2 separate regions of the Homo sapiens genome follow, and region 2 is linked to region 1. The links come from fine-mapping of genetic effects on plasma protein levels. A gene starts in region 1. The other region holds a variant in brackets. All regions are shown on one strand. Distances are between the middles of the regions.

Region 1 (11,518 bases):
AAGAGGTTTCTCAACCAGACTTGTCAAGGCTTAGCCTGTCTGAGTGAGATCTGCTCTGTCTTACTCAAATATGGCATGGGCCATGTCCATGATGTGGAAAGCACTCCAGAGTAGTTGTTATACACATGTAAGTTCTTGTTATTACAGTGTGGAAATTGAGCCATTCGTCTTCTTCCTTGTGTCCTGATACGAAATCATGAGTCAGTTATAGCTTTCATCTCAGAGCATTACCCAGAGACATAAAAGCTCTCTCCATTTGTATAAACGGAGTTATTGAGATAATGTATAAATTTTATACAATTTGCACAAGATTACTAGATCAGTCACTGACCCAGAAAGAAAACTGAAGGTATTTTGAGAGCCAGAACAGTTATAGTTCAATACTGACCATACCACTGTTTGTTTGAAAGCATTTTTTCCTTTGATTTTTATATTGCCTTCTTTTAGAAAACGTTAAACTATATCTTTTTTTTTTTTTTTAGTAGAGACGGGGTTTCACCATGTTAGCCAGGTTGGTCTCGATCTCCTGACCTCGTGATCCGCCCGCCTCAGCCTCCCAAAGTGCTGGGATTACAGGCGTGAGCCACCGCGCCCGGCCTGAAAACGTTAAACTGTATCTTAACTGTCCAATAAAGACAGCAGTACAGTTTGGCAAGAATTCTAATGGAGACAAAATTGACCAATCAGTTCAATAAAGCTGTTATTTAAAAAATGACCAAGCATATTGATAGAGCCACTTGTACCTGGATTTCCTCCCTTGAAGAGTAGCTTTTTGGGGAAAAAGTATGTGCCTGAAAGATTAATGCAGAGAAAGCTGCCTCCGATATGTTTCACTTAATCACTATAATATTTCACAATAACTATTATATGCTTTCTACAGTGAAGGGAAGGAGGGATTAAGAAATCTACCCAGATTTGCAGTGTCAGGGCTGGAATTTAATCTAGGCTTATCTAAAAGTGTATCTTTTTACTTGTATGCAGTGTAAGGAGGAGGTCCAACTTCATTCTTTTGCATGTGGCTATTTGGTTATGCCAGCACCATTAGTTGACCATTAAATGGTCTTGGCACACTTGTCAAAAAACAATTGACCATATGCTTGCATATGGGGTTTTTTGTTTTAAAAAGTAATTTTTAAAAACTCAATTGACCATAGATATGAGTTTCTGAACTTGCATTTCTAGCTATTTATCTATCTTTTTGCTAATATCACACTGTCTTGATTACTACTGCTTTGTAGTAAGTTACTTTTTTTTTTGAGACCGACTCTCACTCTGTCACCCAGGCTGGAGTGCAGTGGCACATTCTCGGCTCACTGCAACCTCCGCCTCCCGGGTTCAAGCAATTCTCCTGCCTCAGCCTCCTGAGTAGCTGGGACTACAGGTGTGTGCCACCATCCCCAGCTAATTTTTTTTTTTTTTTTTTTTTTTTAGTAGAGATGGGGTTTCGCTGTTGGTCAGGCTGGTCTCAAACTCCTGACCTCAAGTGATCCGTCTGCCTTGGCTTCCCAAAGTGCTGGGATTACAGGCATGAACCAGCCTGTAGTAAGTTCTGAAATTGGAAAGTGTGAGTCCTCCAAATACGCTCTTCATTTTCAAGATTGTTTTATCCTGTTCTGGGTTCCTTATACCCCCATATAATTTTTTTTTTTTTTCAGACAGGGTCTGGTTCTATTGCCCAGGCTGGAGCGCAGTGGCACAATCTCGGCTCACTGCAACCTCTGCCTTCTGGGCTCAAGCAGTCCTCCCGCCTCAGCCTCCTGATGGCTGGAACTACAGGTGCACACCACCACACCAGATAATTTTTGTACTTTTGTAACTCCAATGCCTGCTCTTTCCACTGAGCTTTTGCTTTTAAAACTGAAATGCCAGGGAGTGGGTGGTATGTATTTGAAAAAGAATCCTAGTGTAAATTGGTGAATGGAAATTAGACTAGATAATTCTACTGGCAGTGAAATTGGATGATCACCTTAAAGTCTTCTTTGAAACTTTGGATGGATTTAATTAGTATTGCTAGAAGTAACTATTTGACAAGATTGGTTGGTCTCACTCTGTCATGTAGGCTGGAGTGCAGTGGCGTGATCACTGTTCTCTGTAGCCCCAACCTCTCGGGCTCAAGTAATTCTCCCACCTCAGCCTCCAGAGTAGCTGGGACAACAGGTACATGCCACCACACCTGGCTAATTTTTTATTTATTTTATTTTTTGAGACGGGGTCTTACCCAGCCTGTGCAGTGGCATCATCTTGGCTCACTGAAGCCTCCACCTGGGTTCAAGTGATCCTCCTGCCTCAGCCTCCCAAGTAGCTGGGACCACAGGCACGTGCCATCACAGCCGGCTAGTACATTCTATTTTTGGTAGAGACAGGGTTTTGCCATGATGCCCAGGCTGGTCTTGAACTCTTGAGCTCAAGCGATCCACCTGCCTTGGCCTCCCAAATAATTTCTTATTTATTGTGGCGATGGAGTCTTGCTGTTTTGCCCAGGCTGGTCTAAAAGTACTGGGCTCATGCAAACCTCCTGCCTTGGTTTCCCAAATTGTTGTGATTACAGCCATGAGCCACTGCACCTGGCTGACAATATAAGTTCTTAGAAAATTTTATACCTCTGGTAACATATAAGTAAATACTTGTGCTACCTTTTTAAAAATGAAGTGATAGAGTCAAAGACCTGCAAATCACATATTTAAAAATTTTTTTTTAAATGAGGTACAGTTTACAAACTGTAATGCACAGATCTTCAGTCAGACAAGTTTTAACAAATGCTTAGTAAATCCATGTAACTCACACTCCAAACAGTAGAACATATCTGTCGCCCCCTAAAAGTTTCCTGGTGCCTCTTTCCTGTCATCGCTCTCCAAAGGCCACCACTGTGCTTTGATTTCCATTACCAGATATTAGTTTTGCTGTCAAATGGTATATTCTGCATACCGGATATTAGTTTTGCTGTCAAATGGTATATTCTGCATAAAAGAAAAGCAAGTGTTAAACCATACTGCATAGTTACTCAATTTAACAAGCACAGCTGTTAAGGTGGAATCTATCCTCTCATATATTCCCAAAAACTTAAAACTCTTTTTTAAATTTTAGTTTTAGATTTGGGGGTGCATATGCAGGTTTGTTACAAGGGTAATTGCATGTTGCTGAGGTTTGGGCTTCTATTGATCCTGTCACCTAGATAATGAACATAGTACTGAGAGGTGACAGCGTGCTGGCAGCCCTCACAGCCCTCGCTGGCTCTCAGCACCTCCTCTGCCTGGGCTCCCACTTTGGCGGCACTTAAGGAGCTCTTCAGCCCGCTGCTGCACTGTGGGAGCCCCTTCCTGGGCTGGGCTGGCTGAGGCTGGAGCTGGCTCCCTCAGCTTGCGGGGAGGTGTGGAGGGAGAGGCGCTGGCGGGAACCGGGGCTGCGCACGGTGCTTGCGGGCCAGCACGAGTTCCGGGTGGGTGTGGGCTCGGCGGGCCCGCACTCGGAGCGGCCGGTGGGCCCTGCCGGCCCCGGGCAATGAGGGGCTTAGCACCTGGGCCAGCAGCTGCAGAAGGTGTGCTGGGTCCCCCAGCAGTGCCGGCCCACCGGCGCTGCGCTCAATTTCTCGCAGGGCCTTAGCTGCCTCCCTGAGCAGGGCAGGGCTCGGGACCTGCAGCCCGCCATGCCTGAGCCTCCCCCACCTTCCATGGGCTCCTGTGAGGCCCGAGCTCCCTGACGAGCACCACCCCCTGCTCCACAGCGCCCAGTCCCATCGACCACCCAAGGGCTGAGGAGTGCGGGCACAGGGCGCGGGACTGGCAGGCAGCTCCACTTGCAGCCCCGGTGCGGGATCCACTGGGTGAAGCCAGCTAGGCTCCTCACTGGTGGGCACTTGGAGAACCTTTATGGCTAGCTAAGGGATTGTAAATACACCAGTCGGCACTCTATCTGGCTCAAGGTTTGTAAACACACCAATCAGCACCCTGTGTCTAGCTCAGGGTTTGTGAATGCACCAATGGACACTGTATCTAGCTACTCTTGTGGGGACTTGGAGAACCTTTGTGTGGACACTCTGTATCTAGCTAATGTAGTGGGGACGTGGAGAACCTTTGTGTCTAGCTCAGGGATTGTAAATGCACCAATCAGCGCCCTGTCAAAACAGACCACTCCGCTCTCTGTAAAATGAACCAATCAGCAGGATGTGGGTGGGGCCAGATAAGAGAATAAAAGCAGGCTGCACGCGCCGGCAGTGGCAACCCGCTGGGGTTCCCTTGCAAAGCGTGGGAGCTTTGTTCCTTGGCTCTTTGCAATAAATCTTGCTGCTGCTCACTCTTTGGGTCCACACTGCCTTTATGAGCTGTAACACTCACTGCGAAGGTCTGCAGCTTCACTTCTGAAGCCAGCGAGACTACGGACACACTGGGAGGAACGAACAACTCCAGACGCGCCGCCTTAAAAGCTGTAACACTCATGGCGAAGGTCCGCAGCTTCACTCCTGAACCAGCGAGACCACGAACCCACCAGAAGGAAGAAACTCTGAACACATCCGAACATCAGAAGGAACAAACTCCGGACAGGCCGCCTTTAAGAACTGTAACACTCACCGCGAGGGTCCGCAGCTTTATTCTTGAAGTCAGAAAGACCAAGAACCCACCAATTCCGGACACAGTACCCAATAGGATGTTTTTCAGCCCTTGCCCCTTTCTCTCCCTCCCTTGACTTGGAGTCTCCAGTGTTTGTTGTTGCCATCTTTATGTCCATGAGTACCCGTTGTTTAAGCTCCCACTTATAAGTGAGAACATTCGGTGTTTGGTTTTCTGTTCCTATGTTAATTCACTTAGGATAATGTCCTCCAACTGCATCCATGTTGCTACAGAGGACGTGATTTTGTTCTTTTTTTATGGCTGTTTAGTATTTCGTGGTGTGTATGTACCACATTTTCTTTACCCAGTCTACTGTTGATGGGCACCTAGGTTGATTCCATGTCTTTGCTATTGTAAATAGTACTGTGATAAACATAGTGCGGGTGTCTTTTTGGCAGAATGATTTATTTTCCTTTGGGCATACACCCAGTAATGGGATTGCTGGGTCGAATGATCTTTCTGTTTTTAGTTGAGAAATCTCCAAACTGCTTTCCACAGTGGCTGAACTAATTCACATTCCTATAAAAAGAACTTTAACACTTGCAGAGTAGAGTTTTTAAAATGTTTAGTTATTTTTAATACCAATTCTGACCCCAGGGAAAGAAAATGGAGATGCACTTTACCTGAACTATGTTCTTTTGAAACTCTTCAGTGACATTTGGGAAAGCAAGTTTACAGCCCACATGCTGTGCCGCTTCAAGGACTTATTTTTGTGGTCTCCCTGAAGAAAATGACACTAGAGTAGAAGTGATTGAATGTGAAGTGTCAGGAGATTGCTCGCTCGTCCTTCGTTAAACCCCTGGTCCGGCTGTGTGCTGTGGATGCGGGTGTGTGTTGAGGGGACCTGCGTCTGCCGGGGCCGCACCCCCTCCCGCAGGACCTTGGCTGGCCGCGCGTTTCCTGCCTGTTTCCTGTCCAGCAGCTGGCGAGCTGGGGACCGGCAGGAAAGGATGCGCTGCCCAGAAGGGGCGGGAACCGACCACGCCCGGTCCCGTGTGCCCCCCGCCCTCCCGGCGCCCGCCCTCCCCACGCCGTCGGGGGCGGGCCCCGCGGGGCTGTGGGAGCCGAACGCCGCGGGGTCAGGGCGTGCAGTCTGGGACGCGGGATGCTTGGCGCTCTACCTCGCCGCCCCTGAGCCTTCCCGTCCGCCTCGCCACGCGCCCGGACGGCCTGGGGTTGCTGCCCGTCAGTCTCGAAAGGTAAGAAGCGCCCTCCGCATCCTGGTGTTCGCGCCCGTGCCGCGAGACTCTTGGAGGCTCCTCTGGGGTCGGGAAATGCCTCCGGACTCTGCCACCTCACCGCAGCCTGAAGGCGCAGGTGGACGGTGGCGGCCCCTCCCCACACCCGCCTCGGCCCCAGGGGACGCTTTTAAGGGGTATTGGTCTCCACACTTCGGAGTCCCGAATTTAAGTGAACCTGGCTCTGCCTTGGCTCAGATGTTGCCGAGTGACTGAGACTGGCCACAGAACCTTGAAAAATCGCGTCTTGAGCTACTGTTTCTTTCCAAAAAGAAATCCTTTCTGATATACAAAAAGTATGAAATACAAGGATTAAATTAAATTAAAGACGGTCCTCATTAAGGAGGGCTTTAAGCTGACGACGCGAGGGGTAGACTTCCAGGCGTGAACTGGGCTTGCGGGCATTTGGGAAGCTGAGTAGATGGGGCGAGCCAGGGCGTCCCAGGAACGCTGCACCCAACCTGTGGGACCAGGGCAGAGCAAACTCGAATGAACAGATAAATGAAGCCTGTTTACACGAGCTGCTTTAGAACTAGAGATTTCCTCCCAATAAATACTATTGGTATATATACACACAAGCATGTGCATGTTGGTCAGAAGGGACAAAATAACTGCTTCGTTTTCCATTTTATTCTTTCACGAATCATTGGTCCCATGGACATTAGTGTAATTCATTTACTTTTTCTGCAGCTATGAAGGGAGATTTAGAAGCGTTTGTCCTAGCTGGTTTCAGCAAAAACATGGGGTCTCAGGTTGGGTGATGCTGTTAGCCATTGAGAATATTCACAACTTTTCCCCACCTTCTCAGCTGATGCATTTAGAATTTGTCTCTAAAGTTTACATACAAGAATGCTAGGTAGAAGTATTTTCAAATGTGTATAAAATATATCTAAGTTCTTAATTTCTTAGAACAATTCTCAATGCAAACATTGTAAGAAGTCAGTCGAGGTATTGAGAACAACATGTTGAAAGAAAATAAGCAAGGTAGAAAGAAATTAAAGAGACATATTATGACTAATGTTATGATCATATTCCATATTATGATTGACAAGTAGGCTGGTCTGTTTTATAAGTCTTTTTCCATTCAGCTCTAAATATAGATTGTCTCACCATTCTATGTTTTACCGATCATTTTCATAAGAAAGAAAATGTGTTATAATCACTAAATCAGTAATGATTTGGGGCTTCAAAAATAAAAATGTTATTGTCGTGGAAGCAAACAAATCTGAGAGAAGCCAGTTCAACTTTTGGGAGCTTGCTTCTTCTTAGTTTGGTTACCAGGTCTCAGTGACTTAAAAGAAGCATTGTAATTGTCTTAAGTGCTCACACTTGCCCAAGTGATGTGATGTGTTCTGCAAGGATCTTACTGGCTGACTTTGCCCAGGTTTCCCAGTCCATGTTCGAGGAAAGAATTGGGTCAAGTCTGTGGCTAATTCCACCCAAAACAATTTTCTTCTTCTTTCCTTTCTTTTCTTTTTTTTGGGTGGGGGTGGCGGGGAAGAGGAAGGAGCCCTAATCTGCATAGTTACACTTCAAATCTCTGTTTCCCTTTCAGGAAGTACAGTATTTCCTTTGTTCAGCAGCTCTTGCTGAAAGAAAGCTAATAAGACACACCAGTTTCCCTTCCATTGAATTCTGGCTTATTTCAATCAGTCTTCTTAATTCCACTAATTTGTGCTCTTATCTGAAAAGATGTAACATGTATTTGGAATATAATATACTTGCTTATTAAAATGATTAACTGTGGGCTGGGTGTGGTGGCTCACGCCTGTAATCCCAGCACTTTGGGAGGCCATGGTGGGCAGATCACGAGGCCAGACATCTGAGACCAGCCTGGCCAAAGTGGTGAAACACCGTTTCTACTAAAAATACAAAAATTAGCCAAGCGTGGTGGTGCACACCTATAATCCCCGCTACTCAGAAGCCTGAGGTGGGACAATCACTTGAACCTGGGAGGTGGAGGTTGCAGTGAGCCAAGATCATGCCACTGCACTCCAGGCTAGGTGACAGAGCAAGACTCTGTCTAAAAAAAAAAAAAAAAAAAAAAAAAAAATGTGAATAATGGGGGGGACCTTAAACATTAAGAAAGTACATATTTGGTTATATTTAATATTAATACATAGTTTGCTAGACTCTAGTATGAAAGAACTGTCTTAAATGCCCAGTATCTTATTCTATAGTTGAATAGTCTATATAAAAATAAGTGCCTTTTCCAGCCGGGTGCGGTGGCTTACGCCTGTAATCCCAGCACTTTGGGAGGCTGAGATGGGCAGATCACGAGGTCAGGAGATCGAGATCCTGCCTAACACAATGAAACCCCGTTTCTACTAAAAATACCAAAAATTAGCTGGGCATGGTGGTGGGCGCCTGTAGTCCCAGCTACTCGGGAGGCTGAGGCAGGAGAATGGCGTGAACCCGGGAAGCGGAGCTTGCAGTGAGCCGAGATCTCGCCACTGTACTCCAGCCTAGGCGACAGAGTGAGACTCCATCTCTAAATAAATAAATAAAATAAAATAAGTGCTTCTTCCAACAAATAACTGAACCACAGGCCAGCAAGGTCTTCCCTGCCCTCTTAGGTAGACTGGGAAGATTGCTGTGTGAACCACCGATCTCGTGATGCATACCAGCAGCAACAAGTATTGCAGGACTGATGAAGATGATTGTTATTTGTCTGTTTTCTCCTTAGGCTGCCCTAAACAAGGGAAGTCAGGGCCACATGGAGTTCATATTTAATTGTAGTATTCTGGGGTATCTTTTTTTTAAAAAAGCTTTGATCACTTGGATGTAGCTCCTAGGAATTGATAAATGAAGCAATCCTGGTAACACACCAATTGTGCAAGGAAATGTTAGCCCATTTGTGGACGCCAGGCAGGGAGCATTTGGGTATACACAGCACAATGCTAAATTAAAGTTTAGCAGAAATTTAGTAAATTGATCAGTGTGAAATGCCAAGCAGATAAATAATGTGAAAATGTATCCAAATTGGCTATTAACTTTGATAAAATTAAGCAAATAACAATAAACTCTCCACGTCAGGATGTGCTGTAAAGAGAAGAGACTTTGGTGTTGTGCAAAGATAATTTTAGTGGGTGTTGGGCATACCTGCATATTCTTGACCTGTGAGTTATAATGGAATGAAAAAGGCTTGTATAATTATAAGTCATTGCCCCAGGGAAAATTAGTGTCCTCTCTAGTTTCCTTTCAATATCACTTAGAAAGTTTGAGTTTTAGAATGGTTTTGTCATTTAATGATTACTATTTTATCAATCACATTGAACGGAGCCATCATTTTTTGAGGTTCTAATTTCAGGTGTTTTTGGGGAAAAAAATCACAATCTGGACGTGAGAAAGGACATGAGGAGACTAAAGACCTGGGATTTTGTCAATCAGAATGAAACCAATGTTGAAAGACTTTTCAAATCTATTGTTGGTGGTACTCTGTGACTATGGTGAGTATTGTGAGTATACTTAACGCTACTGGTAGCAATAAGACATAAAGATGACATTATAAATGCATTGATGTTGATGACTCTTCCTGAAGGAGGCAGGGTAGGGTATATAGTGCAGTGCTTTCTCAACTGTGACCCTTGCAACCCTGGGTTCTCTTATGCTTCAGTGATTCTGCATGATTGATTCGTATTTCATTTTATATTTTTAACTCTTAAAAAAATAAAAAAACCAACTCTCTCAAATTTTAACAAATTGGAGGCAAGCATGTTACCTTGAGTTCTCTTTGATTTCCCAGTAATTAAGTGTGATAAATCACTTCATACACACATGCAATGATGTTGTGTATATTAGGGTTCTACATAAGATTTCACTTGACCGAGTTTTGGTGCTAACATACATTTGGACCCAATCTGAATTTCAATCCTTGAAAGTTGCGTGCTCTTAGAAAAGTTTCTTAATCTCTTTCAATCTCAGCAATAATATTGACTTTACAGGGTTGTTATGATAATATCAAGAGTGCAAAACACCCTGAATGAGCAAATAGTAGGTGCTTAAAGTCTGTTCTCGTCATTCGTTTCACCTAAAAATTGAGTTCATTTCTCAGAGAGCTTTATACAACTACTGAACAATAGAGTCAACAATATGATATAATCTTCACTACTTTTGATGATTTCCAAATATTTCATAGACATCTAAGCAGTTGATTGCATGGCAGTGGAAGTTGTTTTTGAATTTGGTAAAGAAATTGTGATCCAAGATATAGAGGACACTGGCTTGTGTAATGTGAATGGCATAGCTGGTTAAATGGACCAGAGCCTGTGCTGTTCATTTCATTCAGTAGACCTCCTTTCTCAGTCTTTTCTTTTTTAAGAAGTTTATTTATACAAGAAGACACCGGATTTAAGGAAAGCCAGTGTGGGATTCATTTATTTTAAAGTAATTTGGCCGGGCGCGGTGGCTCATGCCTGTAATCCCAGCACTTTGGGAGGCCGGGGTGGGCGGATCACCAGGTCAGGAGACCAAGACCATCCTGGCTAACATAGTGAAACCCCATCTCTACTAAAAATACAAAAAAATTAGCCGGATGTGGTGGCAGGTGCCTGTAGTCCCAGCTACCCGGAAGGCTAAGGCAGGGAATGGCGTGAACCCGGGAGGCAGAGCTTGCAGTGAGCCGAGATCGCACCACTGCACTCTAGCCTGGGTGACAGAGCGAGACTCTGTCTCAAAAAAAAAAAAGTAATTTATCCCTTCTTAAAAACCGATTACTCTGGCTGGATGCAGTGGCTCACGCCTGTAATCCCAGCACTTTGGGAAGCCGAGGCGGGCAGATCACGAGGTCAAGAGATTGAGACCATCCTGGCCAACATGGTGAAACCCCGTTTCTACTAAAAATACAAAAATTAGCTGGATGTGGTGAGACGCACTTGTAATCTCAGCTACTTGGGAGGCTGAGGCAGGAGAATCACTTGAACCCGGGAGGCGGAGGTTGTGGTGAGCCGAGATCATGCCACTGCACTCCAGCCTGGGCAACAAGAGCAAAAGTCCGTCTCAAAAACAAACAAACAAAAAAACAAAAACAAAAAAACACAGATTACTCTACATGTAACAGCCTTCTACAAAAAAGTATGTGTTCTTGGTTTCATAATGATAAATAAAGCATCGAAATTCTCCATTTAAACAAATTATACAAGGGTGTTTGTTGTTAATAGCAAAATTTCTTACTGGAATATGAAAATGAAAGTTGAATGAGCATAAAAAAAGAGCATAGAGGTTGAGTGCACAAGCCACTGATAAAAAAAGTAGGTATTGTCGTAGATCTGTTTTACCCTGCTTTATCTCTACTTAATACTGATCAAAATTTAGCATTACCTGTATATTACAGTAGTCAGGATGTGGTAGAACCAAATTGTAGTTTTTTGTTTGTTTGTTTGTTTGTTTTTTTGAGATGGAGTCTCGCTGTTGTCGGCCCGGGTTGGAGTGCAATGGTGCAATCTCGGCTTACTGCACCCTCCACTTCCCGGGTTCCAGCAATTCTCCTGCCTCAGCCTCCTGAGTAGCTGAGATTACAGGCGCCCATCACCATGCCCAGCTAATTTTTGTATTTTTAGTAGATTCAGGGTTTCACCATGTTGGCCAGGCCAGTCTTGAACTCCTGACCTCAGGTGATCCACCCATCTCGGCCTCCCAAAGTGCTGAGATTACAGGTGTGAGCCACCGTGCCTGGCC
Region 2 (11,518 bases), 510 kb after region 1:
TCAGGGTCTCTCATGGACATATTATTTTCTTATCAGGAGTTAAAATAACTCTAGAACTTCTCCTGTAGAAATGCAGATGCTTTATTACAATGAAAGTACCATTTGTAAAGCATATGCAATTAGGCCAATAACAACCAACATTTACTCCCCACTTTAGGGCCCATGAAGCACTTTCTCATATGTTCTTCCTTGTTCTCACAGTCACCTGTGGTTAGGCCTCATTATCCTAGTTTTTCATATGAGAATACTGAAGCTCTAGGGGCTCCCTGTCTTGCTGGGGGCTCAAAATTGGCTTGGGGCCCTAGGAGTTGCCCTGGGCCCAAGGGTGGAGCTATGGGAGCCCTACAAAGCCTGCCCTGTTTCAGTGAATCCCTTCTCTCCCCCATAACTGCTCATTCTGTGTGGCTGCACTCAATAGATTATTTCACCCTTTGAATTAGATGCCTCAGGGAGTCCCCTTAGCGGGCTAAGTTAACCTTTGCAGGGGGTACTGACATGCCCAGGTACAGCCCAGCCCTGCATGCTGCTCTTTGCTCCAGGGACCCCAGCCTGGTCCACCATTTGCTAGGAGAAGATTTCAGTCCCTCCAGAACACACAGCCTGTAAGGAGCCACACTGGCTCCCAGAGCCCGAGCCCCAAGTCATCACTGGGTACAGTGCACGTTCCTCTGCTGTGCAGTGGTGGAGCTTCATCCTGGTGAGTCATTTGTTCTGCGTCTAGGTGTCTCAGTGAGACTCCTACCTGTCTGCTTCAGAGCCACAGGTGAAGCCTTCATTCTCAATCCGATTGAAGAAGAGAAGGCGGCATCACAGCTGAGTTGCTCTCCATCATAGAACCATGGGGCATTGTCCTCAGACACACGCTGACATTAACCGAGGCTAATGAGGCAGAGCCTCTCATAATAGCATTCTGTTTCTTTGGAAACCAAGGTGTAGTTTTTTAAGTGTCGCATGGCCCTTGATTACAATTTGCATTTCCTAGCACTTATTCTACCATTTTTACAGGGACCTGTGGCAGGCAGAGGGGCTCTGGGCAGCTTCCCTGCAGGATTCCACTTCCTGCTTGGGTCGACCGCGCCGCTGCGAGGGAGGGCTTGCCCCTTGCCTCCCTGCTCTCTGGGTGTTTCCTTTGTGAAGGGAGGGACCTGGCATGCTAGAAAGCATCTCAAAGCCCTGCTGAAGAGGAACTCCGGCTTCCCTTGGGTTGCTCTGAAGAAGGTGCTCTCCAAATGAGAGGGCCTCAGGAAGACAGTGGCATCTCCCTGACTGGGTGAGTCAGGTGCAGCTCTAGCCGAGGTGAGTGGGACCTGCCGTGTCCGAGGTGGTGACAGCAGGCACTGAGACTGCTCTGGAATCATGGCTCTCTGAGGTTGTTGCTCTGAAGTCCTGCCTCTGGGCCCTCGTCCAGTGTCGTGACAGCTCTTTTCTCTGGAAGAGGGAGGACAGTCTCTCTCCCTGCACGAACTGCCTTCAGCCTGACATTTCTTCTCCTGCTTAGGGCCGTTCTCTGTTGACTGCTTCGTGTTGTCTGCTGTTTCTCTTAGCTCAATGCTTCTCAACGAGGGTGCTTTTGACCTCCCCCAGGAGCATTTGGTAATGTCCACAGATATTTTACACAGTAACTACTGGAGGTGTGCTACTGGCGTCAAGTGGTTGGAGGGCAGGGATGCTGTTAAACACCCCACAGCACACAGAACAGACTCCCACAGCAATTATCTATTCCAAAATGTCAGTACTAATGAGGTTAAGAAACACTACTAATGATGATGTTCCCCTACCTGGTAAATAAAATTCAAGGTTTTCAGCCTCCACATCAGTACAGAATGAATGTTTCTTAATTGAAATGCTTGGAGCCAGAAGTGTTTTAGATTTAGGATTTTGGAATATTTGCATTATATTTGCTGGTTGAGCATTCCCAAACTGAAAATCTAAAATCTAAAATGCTCCAATGAGCATTTCCTTTGAGCATGACCTTTGAGCATCATATTGATACTCAAAAAGTTGCAGAATTTTGAGCATTTCAGATTTTTGGATTGCTCAACCTGTACTTTTCACAATATCTTGAAAACGGACCATGCTTATCTTTTCTCTTTTGATCTAGAGCCTCCTTCTTTTCCACGTCCATACCATGAATTCCTATTCAAGCCCAGAGAAAATTATTCATTACTACTATGCATTAGCTGCTGAAGGCCAGGTGATGTTTTCCCAGATCTGACTCATCATGATCATGATCATCAATTATCATTATCATCATCATCAACAACAATTACCTTAGGGTCATCATAAGAATTGCATATAAGCTAGCCACCAAGCAGTCATCAGTCATCTGCCTTTAGCCCAGTGCTACCTGAATTCAGTTTCTGTCATCATGTATTTCTTAATTTCAAAATAGGCAGCAGCACTAAATCTGGTCCATGGGCTCATTAACATCATCATCATCATCATCATTAATATTACCATCATTGTCATCATCACTGCAAAGCAGGCAACAAGCAGTCATTAAGCTCATGCTGATTCTGATGCTGATGGTGAATGAGAAGCAGCACTGCAGAAAACCACCTCATGCCTAGCATCCCAGGGCCACAGGTGCTGTGTGTTAGATTGAGTGTTCACTTGTCCAGTGTGAATGTATTTTTGTTAAGAGTTATTGGCCTTTGAGTTTCTGGTGACCAGATGCTTCTTTCTAAACACACACACACACACACACACACACACACGTGGAAGACTGTTGGAGAAACCCAAATGGTGTCATAGGAGGCAGGTGTGAGAAGACACTTTGGTTGCACAACCAGGTATGATTCTGCCAGAGCAGAAGACCCTATATGGTTCTCTTTTCTGCCCCAGCACTGCCTCATTATGGCTATGATAGGTTTATTGAAGCTAAAGTTTGGGCATTCTGGGGCAGCCTTTGCCCCACACCCACACGAGTCTTTTTCATTTTTCGGTTGCCACTGAAGTCTGGAAATAGCACTCTGCCTTTTCCTCTGGCCCCATAGAAACCGGGACTTCTGGGTGTTTAACTTAGCATCTGACTCCATTAGATGCTCAGGGTCTCCTGCACTTACACCTAGGGATAGGAAAAAGGGGTGTTCTGGGGAGAGTAGGGGGAGCAGTTTGCCCTCTATTTGGTGGCTTTCCTTGTACAGTGGAGAGAGCAGCCAGAACCTGAAGTGACAACTGAGACATCGTCATCTGACGTAGAGTCTCTCTTCCCTCCCTGACCTCGTTGGTGTGCCACCTCTCCCTCCCTCCCATTTCCAACAGCATGCTTAGGAATGAGTTATGAAGTGTCTTATTGGAAACCAAGACCTCAATGGCAATGAAGGGAAGACACTATAGTTAGTTATTATTGATCATCTCTACCTGCACTTTCTATATTTGCAAGCACTTTTTGGGACTTAGTGAGTAATAAATAAAGTGTCTCTAGATCACCTTGCTGCTTCCCACTGCTGCTGCCTCGTGCATCCAGTTCTAGTTGTGTACCTCCTGGATACACACACTAAGGAGGTGAGACCTTCAAAAGAAATGCAAAATATTTCCACAATTGTGTTTGTGTACAAACTGACCTGTCAAAACCAAAACTATATTTAGGTACTAGATTATAATCAACACCCCCAGTGGATGCTATTGGTGCCTTGCCCAGGGCCCCTTTACCAGGCGGATGCACTCATCTCCCAGCTTTGAGTATTGCTCACCGCAGCCACCTGCTTCCTGAAGAATTGCCCTTGCAGAGCAGAAGCCACCATGCTAGGAAGTTATCCACTCCCTCGGCATCACATAGCCAATAACCAATTGCTGTCAGGGCTGTGTTAGTTATCTGTTTCTCAAAATAAATTACTCCAAAACTTAGTGCCTTAAACGGACAATGAATATTTGTTATTTCACAGTCTGTGTGTGTCAGAGATTTGGGAGCAGCTTAGCAGAATGGTTCCCGTTTGGGTTTCTCAGGAGGTTGCCCACAGACTGTCCATCAGGGCTGCAAGTGACCTGCAGGCTTGACTGAGGCAGGTGGCCTTGCTTCTGGGGTGGCTCACTGGCCTGGCTGGCAAGGTGGGGCTGGTTGTTGGCAGAATGCTCAGTCCCTCTAACCATGGGACTCTCCCAAGTTCAGCTTCTAGAGTAGCTATGATAACATACTTTCTATAAAACCTATATTCTAAAATGTATTTAATAAAATAACTTTCCTCTAATTTTTAAATCTGCAACATTGCAGCAGTTCATTTTAGACATTGAGAGGCTGAACATTTTAGATTCTGGTTCTAAAGGCATGTGGGTGCCCTCAACATCAATAGCAGCAGCTAATAATTCCCAAAGCTTTTCCAGGCGCCAGGCCGTGAGAAGGGCAAAATGTGTTGTGATTCTGTTGAAGTAATGCCTACCACCCCTTCAGTCCCAC[A/T]CTGAAAATGTAACAAGGCAACTGGGAAACTGTCTTCAACATCAGTGCTTTTTTTCATTTTGCTTCTCTTGATTTTTACATCTTACAAAACTGAGAATCCACCTATATTTATTCTTTCATCCAATGCACGTTGGCTTCTGACCTCACCCCTGAAATGGCTTCTCCAGAGGTCTGCAGTAACCCCCCTGATACCACATCCCAAGTGATTCTTTTCAGTTTTTTTATTACATGACCTTTCCATGGAGCTTGACCCCAGTGGATAACTTCCCAAGCTCCTCCTCCTTGAAACTCTCCTCTCTTGGATTTTGAGCTTGGATGACAGAGTGAGAAAGGCCTGGCGTTTTTGCTCTGGACTGGGTAACCCAATGAAGCTATGTGGATTTTCTGCACAAATTTGGAATGTAAACACACCCAATGGGGCTTCTGCCCAGAGGATTGTAGCTAGGCTGGGCTGGAGGTAGGGAAAGCAGGGAGGAGGCTACGTGTTTGTGGGAGGAGGCTGATAAAGCCTGAACTCGGGGAGGCAGTGAGCCTTAGGAGAGCAGGTAGATTCTAGATACTTAGGAGAGCCACTGTCACAGAGCTTTGTAAAGGGACTTGGGATGGAGTGGGCACTGGGGGAGGGCAGAAAGGAAAATAGAGACACTGAAGATGTGTCCAGGCTTCTCCGGGGGTAGTTAGTAATGCCATTGACCCAAGTCAACTGATGTATTTCTGTGTTTTTGTTGGATTCTTCTTCATTTTTGACTTTCCTTGGCTATATGAATTTCCAGAAGTACCTGTTCCAGGGGCAACTGACAACTGAGAGGGGTGTGAGGCATGGGAGGGCGGGTGGGGCACAGGCAGCTCCACCGGGCGCCACCCCTCTAGCAGGAGTGGTTTCTTTATATGTACCAGGGATATTTCTGCATTGAACTCTAGACCATGTGGAACTTGGCTTTTTAGCAGGTCAAATGCCAGGCACAACTTTCTAGCTGGACCAGATGCAGCCACACTCAGGAACCGTGCTTCATTAAAGTGTGTGTGGACCCAGGTTCTCTTCCTTCACAATTTTGTGAGTACAGATGAGGTTGTGTGGACATTAACATCACAAATATGAGAAGGCTGGGCCTCACTTGAAAAAAAAAGAAAAGTTTTATTGAGATATAATTCACGTCATAGATGTCACCCCTCTAAAGTTTATAATTCAGTGGTTTTTGGTATATTCATAGAATTGTGCAACCATCACCACTTTAACATTTTAGAACATTTTCACCACCCTTCTCTCCCACAAAACTCTGTACTCATTAGGAGTCATGCCTTTCTCTTTCCTGGCAACCTTGTATCTACTTTTTGTCTCTACAGAATTGTCTATTCTGAGCATTTCCTATAAATGGAACCATAAAACGTGTGGCTTTTTGTGTCTGGCTTCTTATACTTAGCATAATGATTTAAAAGTTCACCTGTGTTGTAGCATGTATCAGTAATACATCATTCATTTTTATTGCTGGATAATAATCCATTTTATGGATATATCACATTTTGTTTGTCCACTCATTCGTTGATGGATACTTGGGTTGTTTCCATTTTTTTTTGGCTACTATGAATAATGCTGACATGAACATTTGCATACAAGTCTTTGTGTGGACTTATATTTCATTTCTCTTGGAGAGACACCTGGGAGTGGAATTGCTAGGCTATTATGGTAACTGTATCTTTACATTAACATTGAAGAACTGACACATGGGCTGCATCTTTTTTCTGATCCCATCAATGATGCATGAGAGTTCCAATTTCTCCACATCTTCACCAACACTGTTATTGTCTGTCTTTTTTATTTCAGTGCATATGAAGTGGTATGTCATTGTGGTTTTGATTTGTATTTCCTTGATGATTAGTGTTGAGCATCTTTCCATGGTCATTTGTATATCCTCTTTGGAGAAATGTCTATTTAACTCATTTGCTTATTTTTAAATTGGGTTGTCCTTTTTTTGTTGATTTGTAAGAGTTAATTTATTCTGGACTCCAGTCCCTTATCAGATCTGTGACTTGCAAGTATCTTCTCCCATTTTGTGGCTGTCTTTTCACTTTCTTGATTATGTGCTTTAAACCACAAAAGATTTTTATTTTGAAGAAGTCCGATTTACATTTTTTTTCTTTTTTTGCCTGTGATTTCAGTGTCTAAGAAACCATTGCCTAATTCAAGGTATAAAGATTTATTCCCAGGTTTTCTCCTAAGAGTTCCATAGTTTTAACTCTTGCATGTAAGACTATGACCCATATTGAGTTAATTTTTGTATGTGGTTTGTAATAGGAGTCCAACTTCATTCTTTTATAGGTGAATATCCAGTTGTCCCAGCACCACTTATTGAAAAGACTGTTCATCTCCCATATGATTGCCTAGGCTTGTCTAAATCAATTGTCCATAAAAGTAAAGATTTATTTCTATTCATAATTTAATAAAAATGTAGTTCTATTCCATTAAGCTACATGTCTAGCCTTTTCTAGTGCCATGCGGTCTTAATTACTATAGCTTTGCATTAAGATCTGAAATAGAGAAACTTGAGTCCCCCAGTTTTGTTGTAAGATTGTTTCGGCTATTCTGGATCCCTTGCATTTTTATATTAACTTTAGGGTCAGTTTGTCAATTTCTACATAGAAGCCAGATGACATTTTTGAGAGGATAGTGTTGAATCTGTTCATCAATTTGGGAAATATTGCCGTCTTAATACTTAAGTCTTCTGATTCATGAACATGGCATGTCTTTCCACTTATTTAGGCCTTCTTTAATTTCTTTCATGATATCTTACAATTTTTAGTGTATAAGACTTGCATTTTCTTTGCAAGTGCCAAATGTTGCTGATTAGAAGTACACTGGAAAAACCTTTCAGTCGCTATACCCTTTTCTGGCTTTTATTACTGTTTTTAATTGACACATAATAACTGTATATATTTATGGGATACAGTGTGATTATGAAGCCTTGCACCTATGTTGTTTATCTCAAGTATTTTTTCTTCTAGATGCTATTGTAAATTGTTTCCTTGATTTCATCTTCAGATTATTCATCGCTAGTATATAGAAATACAATCGATTTTTTATATATTGACCTCATATCCTGCAACTTTACTGTACTTGTTCATTGGTTCTGAAAGCGTGTTTTGTGGATTTTCCAGATAAGAGATCATATCATCTGTGAATAGAGATAGTTTCATTTACTTACCATTATTCTTACTAAATGAATTAATAAGTAAGAGCTGTGGGAGTAAGACATGCAGTCTAGACAGTCTCTAGAAGGTGGCCTTGACAAGGCCAGCAGTGATCAGCAGTGGATGAGAACAGGTTTAGTACTGTGAGATTGGAGCAGGGATTGAGGCAGAGAAAGTGAGGAGGAATGACAGGCAGGTACAAGGTAGAATCAAGTGAGTGGTAGATCAGGAAATCCTAGATAACAGGTTGCCGGTGGCACAGTCATTTTTATTACCTTTTTAGCATGCTGGGTGCCTCTCCTGGAACACATTTAAAGGACCCAAAGGACTCCTTCCAACAGTGCCGTCTTAGCAGGAAAAAGATATAAGTCTAAGCCATTCTTGTTGGCTTTGTGCAGCCAGGATAGGCTGTGAAGTAGGCAAAGGGCAGAAGAGGAGAGAGAACTAACATTTATTATCTAGTATGTGCCAACATTTTGCATATATTGTTTAGTTTAACCCTTACATTACTCCTACTTTTGCAAATGTGAATCTGATGTTTGTTTTGTAAAACATTCAGAAAATGCATGATATTTATGTAGTGGTAGCTGCCATCACACCATAAGTCAGTTGCCCATTTCTCCATCCATGAGGCAGCCATCCTCTCTATTATAAGGAGCTCATTTCTCAATTAGTTCTTTGAAAACTGAAAAGCATGTAGATATAGAACAATATCCTGCATTAGTGCTTCTTAACCAGGAGTGTGTCAGGAGAAAAATCCCCAGGAGTTTCTTGTATTTCTGCATGTTTATGAGCAGGGGCACTGCACTTTTGTTCTAATTATCTTTTTATTTTATTTTATTTATTTATTTATTTATTTTTGAGATGGAGTCTCGCTCTGTTACCAGACTGGAGTGTAGTGCCACAGTCTCTGCTTACTGCAGCCTCTGCCTCCCAGGTTCAAGCGATTCTCCTGCCTCAGCCAGTAACTGGGACTACAGGTGCACGCCACCAAGCCTGGCTAATTTTTGTATTTTTAGTAGAGATGGGGTTTCACCATGTTGGCCAGGATGGTCTCAATCTCTTGACCTTGTGATCCACCCACCTCAGCCTCCCAAAGTGCTGGAATTACAGGCGTGAGCCACCGCGCCCAGCCCTTTTTTTTTTTTTTTGAGATGGAGTCTCACCCTGTCACCCAGGCTGTAGTGCAATGGCATGATCTTGGCTCACTGCAACCTCCGCCTCCTGGGTTCAAGTGATTTTCTTGCCTCAGCCTCCTGAGTAGCTGGGATTACAGGCACGCACCACCATGCCTGGCTAATTTTTGTATTTTCAGTAGAGACAGAGTTTAACCATGTTGGCCAGGCTGGTCTCCAACTCCTGACCTCAGGTGATATACCCACCTCGGCCTCCCAAAGTACTGGGACTACAGGCATGAGCCACTGCGCCCAGCCTTGTTCTAGTTATCTTTTCAACTATTTTTTTCAAGAAGATTATAAAGGAAATCATCTTGGCAGACAAAAATAAGAGTCCCCCTCCAGGGAAGACAGATTTTCTTACTGTGTATGATAATAAAGATAATTTTGGCCAGGCACAGTGGCTCATGCCTGTAATCCCAGCACTTTGGAAGTCTGAGGCAGGCAGGTCACTTGAGCCCAGGAGTTCAAGATCAGCCTGGGCAACATAATGAGACTCCATCTCTACAAAAAAAAAAAAAAAAAAAAAAAAAAAAAAAATTAGCCAGACATGGTGGCATGCATGTGTGGTCCCAGCTACTTTGGAGGCTGAGATAGGATGGTTGCTTGAGCCTAGGTCAGGGCTACAGTGAGTCATGATGGCACCACAGCAAGACCCTGTCTCCAAAAAATAAAAAAAAGACAATGTCTTACTATGGTGTAAAAGTTGGGCAGGTTTACCTGCAGTCCTTTCAGCCTTTCAAAAGATTTGGGTTTCTGAAACTTGGGGCTCCTCTGCTGTGATGAACCCAATGTGTGCTCTGTATTCACCTGGGCCACTCTGCATCACCCTGTGGTGCCAGAGAACAAAGGGAACCAACCTGAACATGAAGTTTATGCTGCTTGCTGTGCTTTGTTTCTGACTCAGGAGTCTTGTGTCTTCTGACGGTGTACATGGAACTGCGGCAGACTAACTCCTGTCAAGGTGCTCATCTAAATCACCTGTGGGGTTTCAAAAATCCATACCTGCCTGGGTCCTACCCCAGTGATTCAGATTCAGTATGTCTGGAGTGGAGCCCAGGTACCTGGGTTTCTTTAAGTTCTCTGAATTGTCCTGAGCACATGACCAACTGAGACCACTGTTCTCACAACAGTCAGACCCCCAAGCCGACCAAACTGGCCAAGCTTCTGGCAAGGATCAGTGCACAGTTGGAAGTACTCAGCCGGGTTCTGGAGACACTGTAAGAAGACCGCTGCAGGGGTGCCTCATGGGAAGAGATGGACCTCCTCTGGTGGTCGCAACAGGCTTTGTCTGATAATCACAGCATCCCCCTCTCAGGGCATCCGGCTGGGTGCATGGGGCATGTGCACCGACAACTTGAACAACCTTCCCCAGAGGGCAGTGACTGCAGAACCAGGACCTGCCCTGAGCATTTTAGCCAGGCTGTGAGAGGGTGCCCTCTCCTGGACATGCTGCTGCTGCTCACATAGTTCCTTCACTTAAAACCAAGTCTCTGAAATGATAAGAAAACTTCAATAATTATTCTAAAAACATACATTTGTGTTACACACACGTGTTTCTCTGTCTCTCTCATACACACACACACCCCTCTAGAGCTATATGGCTTGTTATAGGCTTTGAAAATCTTTTATATTCACCAAGCTGTCCCCGATGGCACAGCTAGAAGGAGCTGGAGAAAAAGACAAGTCAGTCTGAAGCTTTCTTGTAGGCTGAGAGTTACATTTCCCACAGATTGGCTTCTCCAGGAAGGGGATGTGGAGTGTTGGACTTTCCTGTGCCAAAGTTGAGACTGGGGCCCTGGGGTTTGCTGAACACTAATAGAATTTAGCAGACTCTTGTTCTCCCTGAAGAAAAGAGCTTTTGAAAGCAGGCATTGTCCACAGAAAAGAGATGAAGTGTTTAGGCTAAGAGGAGGAGGGTCAGGCAGCTGTTAGAAGAGGCTTGTGGTTACGTTGGTTGCTATGTGGGAAATTTTTGTAAAAATTTAAAAAGGGAAAAAAGACCATGGCAAGAGCATCCTGAGTCTCAGGGGTTGTGTATTGGAATCTGAGAAGTGGAGAGGATATTTACCATCACAGGGGGGCTGTCAGATCACGGATGTTAAGCATTTGGCGCATTGGGAACACTCCCTACTGGTAGCTGTAAATATCATCATTAGCTGCATGCTCAGCTGTTTTATTTTTTCCCCCATCCCAGGGCAGAGGGTGGGGGGATGTAGGCAGTGGTGTCAGGGTCTAGCTGGGAGGAGTGAGGGGACAGGAGGTTGAAGATGAGGAAATGCCTGGTCTGCTATCTTGGTAGCCCTAGCTTCAGGCCCTGTCCCACAGGTAGATGGATAAATGTCCCAGGTGGAGCCCATAGCAAACACCCCTCTGCACCTTCCCACCAGAGTTCTTTTCAGGGCTATCCAAGAGACAGCCAGAATCCATTCCCTGCCTAAAGCACAGAGAATCTGACTTGAGCCACTGTCTTGTGGCTCGATTTCCCTGCAGTTACTACCGAGTGTGAGCCCCATCCATAAGGAATATTTAGAAAACCATCTTCAGAGGCAGTTTCCCACCCCACAATGGCAGCTGAAGAGGACAATGCTATCAGAGCCTATGCTGGTTATGGGTTCTCTGCAGCTCCCCACAAACCACCCCAATACCACATGCATCTCAGCCAGGCTGACCCAAGTTCCTTTTTCCTTTAAGTCAGGGGTCCCCAGCCCCTGGGCTATGGACCAGTACTTGTCCATGGCCTGTTAGGAACTGGGCCACA

Direction of the effects. Positions count from the first base shown, and alleles are read on the strand shown. Strength reflects both the effect of a copy and how common the allele is.
In carriers of allele A in region 2, the plasma level of the protein whose gene starts at base 5,662 in region 1 tends to be lower than with T alone (moderate association).

The links. A credible set is the group of variants that fine-mapping cannot tell apart. PIP is the chance, under the fine-mapping model, that this variant and not a neighbour inherited with it causes the effect. The UK Biobank Pharma Proteomics Project read protein levels with antibody pairs (Olink). The fine-mapping took linkage between variants from a reference panel, not from the people measured, so its PIPs are less certain.
Region 2: its variant is the best candidate, but not a certain one, in a credible set for the plasma level of the THSD1 protein (UK Biobank, PIP 0.52).

The regions. Positions count from the first base shown.
Region 1 is chr13:52,400,316-52,411,833 of GRCh38, reverse strand. THSD1 (thrombospondin type 1 domain containing 1) reads left to right here and starts at 5,662. Exons shown (of 5, transcript NM_018676.4): 1 at 5,662-5,803; 2 at 9,153-9,291. The coding sequence starts at 9,234. RefSeq lists a silencer at 5,573-5,732.
Region 2 is chr13:51,895,142-51,906,659 of GRCh38, reverse strand. It overlaps a transcript of TMEM272 not described here. Among named protein-coding and RNA genes, the nearest start is that of CCDC70, 39 kb to the right of the region's middle. The variant A/T (reference allele first, on the strand shown) is at 4,397.